Linked DNA regions of Homo sapiens. The protein of the gene in region 1 interacts with the protein of each later gene in a biochemical or structural test. Each region holds a gene or a part of one and is shown on either strand. Other genes may lie near its edges.

Region 1 (3,652 bases):
TGCTGTACTCCTGATGGAGGCAATGTGCTTTTCAATTTTTCAAATTCACCATGCCAAAAATGTGAACATTTGAAAATACTGCAATAATTGACTACATTCGCCAGGATTCATCTGAATGTTTGACATTTTGTACACTCAGCATATTGTATTTTAACACCTGCTGCGTGGCTTTCTATGTCAAAGTAAATATGGACCCAGTAAGCATATTAATAAAGGCAGGAGAAAAGTTGTACTGTTTAGAAGAGAATGAATATACCAAAATCAAGAGGCTCCACTTTTTCCCCACTTCTGCTACATATCTGCTATGACCTCACACAAAATAACTTCATCTCCAGGAACCACAGTTTTCCAATATGAATTGGAAAGTCTGCAAAATGTAGAAGATACTATATAAGTATAGAGTGTAATTATAATGATGTGCTTTTTGTAAGATGAGGAGGGTAACACAGTGTTCTGTTCCAAATCTGCTGTCTGTTAAACATAGGCTTTTACTTATAAGCATTCTTAAAGGGTTCAACTGAGTACGTACTTCCTCACTTCATGTTCTGAGATGTTCTTTGATGTTGTTGAGAGATACAGGATGACTGCTGGTGGATTTCACTCAAGTCTGGCTACATTTCCGAAAAAAAAAAAAAAAAAGCAATCTGCCCCAATATAAAGGTTTTCAAGAACTCTGGGACATTATTATTTTACTGCATATTTTTAACATAATGAATTTTTTTTTAGTTAGAAGAAATGGAAAATTGATTCAATATGGGAAAATATGAAAGAAAAGATCCCTAAGAGTGAAATACATACATCCATTTTACTGTGCTTAAGCAGTATAATAATGACCATATTCAATATTAGTGTGTTTTACGTATCACATTTTACAAAACAAATAAATAATCACAAGTTGTGTGAGCCTTCTATGAGGCTGAGAGCAAGACCTGAAAAAAAATGCTAATGCAAGGTAGTGACAATCTTTCCTGTTAAAGCTGAACTCTAGTTTAATGGCTAAATATATTGGTTTTTTTTCTGCTATTCACTCTACCAAATCAGATTGCCCGATGTTTTTCTGAGGGGGAGAAAAGGTTGGGAGTTGGGGGAAGTACTGTATTTGACTTTATATCAATCAGAAGTATAATTATATGTTTGAGAGGTTTTTTCTTTAAGTAGATCTCTGAAGCTAAAAAGTTTCCCTTGGAGATTCTCAACTGTGTTTATCTAAAAGAAAACCAAAAGAATCAAGAAATTTTTACACATTTCATCTGTACCAAAACCAAGCAATGGAAAAACATTTGAAGGGGTAAAGTGCAGTCAAAACTCGCTCTTTAACTAGTTAGGAATAAGCACAAATTAGAATTTGCTTCCATCCTACCCAATACAAAAGTACTGCTCTGCAAAGAATAATTTGTGATGATCTTAACAATTACATTTCTATGTTTTTTTAAAATATAAAATCTACAAATTCAAGAAACTCCATGAGAAAAGGAGAAGTAATTTTCTGTCCTGACATTTCAGAATAGAGAAAGACGTTCCTTTATTTAGCGCACCTCACCATAACTAGCATTTAAATCACATGATATGTGGCTTGCACAAAATAAAGTAGAAGGATATTTAACTGTAGTAATGCTATTGAAATTTTGTATGAGACTCCTTATGACTAAATCTGTGAATCACTAAAAGAAGAGGAATGGAGAATTAACTCAAACCCTTAAAACAGTTTCTCATCTTTTTATATGGAAATTAAAATTGCCTATGACATTTCCATGGACAGAAGTCTAGTCTTAACTAATCAATTACTCTTATAGGCCAAAATAATTCAGGATATTGTACTTGCGGTATAATTGAAATATAATTATTTTTCAAGATAAAATCTGATCAAATCTTTCTTTGCAATAAAAAGAGAAGTGAGACTAATTGCAAAAAGCAAAAATGTTATTCCTATCACAATTACTTAAAGATAACTTCAAATACAGTATCAAAACATTTCAACAAATACTACAGTTAATATTTTGAATTTATCCTAGAACTTAGGAAAAGCCCATTGAATTTTAGAGAAAAAACACAATATGTCATTTCATAATTTTAAAAATATATATGTCAAAGATAAATTTTGATAAAAATTATTTCAATGTAAAGCAGCAATTTGTGGGCCATGTATCATGGTGGTTTAGATCATCTAACAATAGATATTCTGGAATTTTGAAAGGATACAAACAATAATGCCAAAGAGGAAAAAATAATGAAAGATATCTACCATACCTATTTTCAAATATTTAATAGAAGTTTTCTAAAAAATTTTATAAGTATTTATTTTCCACCTGAAATTCTTTGTTCCAACTTCCTTACTTAGAAGTTTTATATATTCAGTCCCAAAATATTTAACTTTAAATAAGTTTTCTTGAATTCAAAGGCATAACACAAAAATGTGTCTGTCTTCACACAACTTGAAATCTATTGATTTACATAATTTTGCATAATAATTTATATTACGGTTAATAAGGATTTAACAGGCTTAACAACCTATTTTCCCTAGTTTAGATACAATGAGATTCAAAAAATATAAACATAAAATCTGATCATTAACTATGTAAGAAAAATACTACTCACTGGTATCAAGTATTTACCAGTTGTATATTTGTTTTCGAAGAGAGAAAAATGGCTAGTGATGCCAAAAATTTATTTTCAAACAGAAATTGCTCTGTCATTTTGAAACCCCTCCTTTTGACAAGCACTGAAAGGTATTATTAAATATACAGAATTAACTATGAGTGCTAGCTTATATATCTAAAAATGTGTTTTCTTTCTTTAACACTGCCAGAAAAACATATGATACTGATAAATATATGTAGTCCAGTGTTCTCTAACTTAAAACAGCAGAATAGACTTGAACTACTTTTAGTTTTAAAATATACATCTGGACTTAAAATTTCTGCATAGTGTTTCAGCTTGAAGCTATTTAAGGCAACTAAGTTACGAACCCTGAACACCAGGCTTCACAGTGGAAATGCTGACAGACCCCTAACTAAAAGGGTGCTACTGGATGCATGGTTGACACGCTCTCTCCACCGTTACCTGACCATCAGCTAATGAGCTGAATTTGCAAATTACTTCTTTGTCACTAGAATTATCTAGGATAGAAAGGGTCTGGGATCCTCTAATAGTATGCCCTAACTATTTTAAGGTTTCAGTGAGATACACCTGAAAATGTTAAAAATATTTATTTCCGTTTCCTTGACACCTGGGGGGACCGAACATTTCAAAACTGCAGAACTTTGTTAAAAATACAATGTTAATAAACAACTTTATATAAAGTATACCAGTTGTTTTTGCATTTTTACATGTAAAAATAAATAAATTTTATATCATCTCGAAACAAGAGTAGATGAACAACGCTAATACATTCTTAATGAAATAGATTGACAATATCGTGTTTAAACACGAGTTTAAACTGACATTTCAAAACAGTCTATTGAATTCATTTCTGATTCTCTGCGGTGTCAAGCTCAGTGTGACAGATACAAAATACGGGCTCAATAAATATTGTATTGATTTGAATATCAGACTTCACAACAAATAAGTTGTGTGTGTGTGTGTGTATGTGTGTGTTTAAATCCATTTACCTATCTGCTATTGACCTGACAACCACTATAATCTATTTTTTACA
Region 2 (3,543 bases), on another chromosome or scaffold:
GAAAACTCGGATCCTGAGCAGAAATCTCCACGGGTGAATCGCATTTGCAGTCGGATAGACAGCCTTGCAGCGTCTGATCTGCGGAGCTGGGCCCTGGCTGCCCAGGATGGCAGACACTAGGGAAGGCCGAGCCAGGCTCCGATGCGCCACATGACTCGGTTCTCTAAGCCTCTAAACTCTGCCCATCCCGCCTGAAGGCCGATGCAGGGAGAGCAGCTGGGGGTCAGTCTGGGCGCGGCTCTTCATGTGTAGGCTGCTGTGGGGCCCAGGATCAGCCCTGCCTCAAGGCCTGGCTCCCACCTCCCAGTGGGGTGACCCTGGGCACAGCCCCTGCTCTGAGCCTCTCCCTCATGAGCACTGTGCTGACTGCACAGGGATGCTGTAAGGAAGAAGGGAGACAGTGTCTGCGGTGCTTACAAGTGGCCGAGGGGGAGGCGGTGCCCTGGGGCTCAGAGAAGCCCAGAATCTTCTCAGGCCTGGCTGGAGGGGTGGAGGGAACCAGCCGCACTGGTCCTCCTTTCTAAAGTGTGGGGCAGACCTAGAAGAGTAGGGCAGGCCTAGGAGAGCCGGCCAGGCCTTTAGAAAGGTCTTCAAGCTGGCCCCACGCCCAGCACCATCTTTTGCAGAGGCCCATTCCTACAGCCACCCCCGGAACCCTCCCGCCCCTGCAGGGGACAGCTCAGGACTGTGGGGGCGGGCCACCCGCCTCCGCCCTGGGCCAGTGGGGGCACCTTATTGCCGTTGCAGTACATGGCCAGGAGGCACAGCAGGTGGAAGGCATGGCTGCACTTGGTGAGGTGGCCCACAGCTAGGGACCCGATTGCCTTGCTGTCAGTCACATCGCTGTATCCAGACGCTGTGGACAGCTTCTCCATGCAGATGATGCAGTCCTGGAGGAGACCAAACATGGGTCATGCTCGCCAACAGTGGGCTGGGCTGACGTGGGCCAGTCTTGGAAAAAGAGGCTTTCATGTGCTGAAATGCTGGAAGTGCAGTCAAAGTCAATTCCGAGGCCAGGCGCAGTGGCTCAGGCCTGTAATCCCAGCACTCTAGGAGGCCGATCACTTGAGGTCAGGAATTTGAGGCCAGCCTGGCCAACACGGGAAAACCCCATCTCTACTAAGAATACAAAAATTAGCTGGGCGTGTTGGCAGGTGCCTATAATCCCAGCTACTCGGGAGGCTGAGGCAAGAGAATCGCTTGAACTCAGGGGGCAGAGGTTGCAGAGCTGAGATTGTGCCACTGCACTCCAGCCTGGGTGACAGAGCGAGACTCCGTCTCAGAAAAAAAAAAAAAAAAGTCCATTCCACAGGCTGGAGACACAGGTGAGTCACCGGGACCTGTGCCTCTGAAGGGCTTACCAGCAGCACAGGCCCGACATGACAGCAGAAGCCACCAAATGGGGAGGACGGACAGGGCAGGATCCTGGGGGAGGCCCTCGGCGTGGGGTCTTACAAGGGAGACAGGAATTGCCAGATGGACAAGCACAGAGTGGGCACCCGGAAGAGGGAGGAGGACGTTCTGAACGAGGAGCCAGCTCATGGGCACTAAAGCTGGCAGGGGGTGGGCTGGGAGCAGGAGATGAGACAGGATCAGGGAGAGGCGCGCCCTCGGGGGTCTGGCTGCCACACTCAGGGGCTTGGGGCTGTGTGTGAGTTGGGGGTCCTGCTGGCGGTTCCAGGCAGGGAGTGCTCCCATGATCCAAGCTGCGTGCTGGCTGTGCAGACGGCAGCTTGGAGAGGAGGAGCCTGGGGTGAAACGGCCCAGTCACACCAGATGGACACCAGGGCCGAGACAGAGCTGAGCGCTGGGCAGGCGGGAATGTGGCAAGGGCTTGTGGAAGGGGTGGGACACATGAGGAGGACGTTCAGGCTCCTTTCCAAACCTTTACTTACCAGATTTTTCTCATGGACTCAACAGACTGGAGAAAGAGACAAGTGAAGAGTCCCTGGGTACTGGGGCTCCTGGCCTTCCACCCGCCCCCAAGTATCTGAAGATCTCTGGGTACTGGTACTCCCGGCCGTTCACCCACCCCCTCCCCCAACAGTATCTCCAGGGCTCCCAGCTAAAATCAGGGGAAAGTGGTGCTGCAGCCCCCAAAACGTGGCTCAGTAGAGGTTCAGGTTCTATGGAAGCGCAACAGGAGTCTGATTGGTCCTGTTCATTACAGGAGGTCAGGAGGACAGGGCTGCAGTGAGCTGTGATCACGCCACTGCACTGAGCCTGGGCGACAGTGTGCACCCGTCTTTAAGAATAAAAAAATTATAAGAACCTTGACCAGCTCTCCCAATAGCCGGGGGGCAGGACAGCCACCTGGACGAGGCCACCTCACTTCTACACCAGCATCCGCAAGGTGGAGAGTGGGGCAGGCTGGCCCATCCCTTGTCTCTGGAATTCCTGCTCCCAGGATGGCCATCAGGCTATGGAGAGGCCAGGGCCGGGAGAGGAGGGGCTTTGCTCAGGACCACAGCTCCTTAAGTGCAAAGCTCAGACCATAACGATGTGGGTCTCGGGAGGCTGGGAGATGAAACCAAAGGGGCTGGAGCAAGGCCCTGGCACCCAGAGGCACCTGGGAAGCACCCTTCAAGCAAGATGGGGCGGATGTCCTTTCCATGTGGAGTTGTTTCCAAACAGAAACAAAGGCAGCCAAGGTCCCAAGACACAAACCTCATCTGGGGGCACTTTCAGCTCTTCCGTGTAGTTTTTTATGACCTGCTCTGGCTCTGGCTCTGGCTTCGGGGTCGCTCCTAGAAGAGAGAAGTACATAAGCAGCGTCCTGAGGAGCACAGGCTGGAGAGGAGGCCAGAGGGCGAGGAAGGGAAGGAAGAGGTCTAAGCTGCCAGGAGGAAATGCGAGAGGGGCCCAGACAGGGAGGCCAGTGTGCGGGACGGGAGAGCTCAGCGCCAGGCACAGAGCCCCGAGCTCCGTCGGGCAAAGCCTTCCCCAGTCCCACCGTCCGGGGACCCGGCTCAGCCCCAGGAGCCATGGAGGATGCAGAAGAGCAGAAACAGCAGCACAGTCTCCTGGGAGCCGCATCCCCGCGCACATTGAGTGAGGAACCGACCCCGGCGCTTCTGAGGCTGCGCGGAAGAGTCAGACAGCCGCTTCGGGCACAAACTACTCCAGGGGGCGTTGTGGCACCACGATTTGATTCAACTTGCATTACCCTGGCATGAACATCACAGGGACAAGGGAGTCTGGGGTCCAGCATGTACAGGCAGCTGCACACACGCCGACCGCCACACAGACACTGTCCCGGGAAACGCCTGCCACTGACTGGGAAGGTCTGTCACATGCAGACTAGCTCCTAAGTCCAGCGACTCTGGGGAGGGGCCAAGACGTGGCAGGAGCCCACCCTGACGGCCTCACTCGCTGTCTGTGCACACGTGCACGAAGCTGGAGGGAGAAGGGCTGCATCTCCATAAACACCGAACCCCACATCCAGTAAAGCCTCTCCTACGGACAAGAAGCTCCTGAGCTGGTGAGGATCGGCGCGGCCCGGGGCGTTCTCTAGGTAGTGGGAGTAGCAGAACCACAGAAGCC

The links. The genes of interacting proteins can lie anywhere in the genome.
Region 2: the proteins of RUNX2 (region 1) and DTX2 form a complex in vitro, tested with the Homo sapiens proteins (one study listed by BioGRID).

The regions. Positions count from the first base shown.
Region 1 is NC_000006.12:45,425,826-45,429,477, reverse strand, and holds part of RUNX2 (runt-related transcription factor 2), read right to left. Parts: intron 1-3,652. UniProt on the Homo sapiens protein: Transcription factor involved in osteoblastic differentiation and skeletal morphogenesis. Essential for the maturation of osteoblasts and both intramembranous and endochondral ossification.
Region 2 is NC_000007.14:76,499,645-76,503,187, reverse strand, and holds part of DTX2 (probable E3 ubiquitin-protein ligase DTX2), read right to left. Parts: intron 2,748-3,543; coding exon 2,668-2,747; intron 984-2,667; coding exon of another isoform or gene 969-983; exon of another isoform or gene 954-968; intron 891-953; coding exon 732-890; intron 1-731. UniProt on the Homo sapiens protein: Regulator of Notch signaling, a signaling pathway involved in cell-cell communications that regulates a broad spectrum of cell-fate determinations.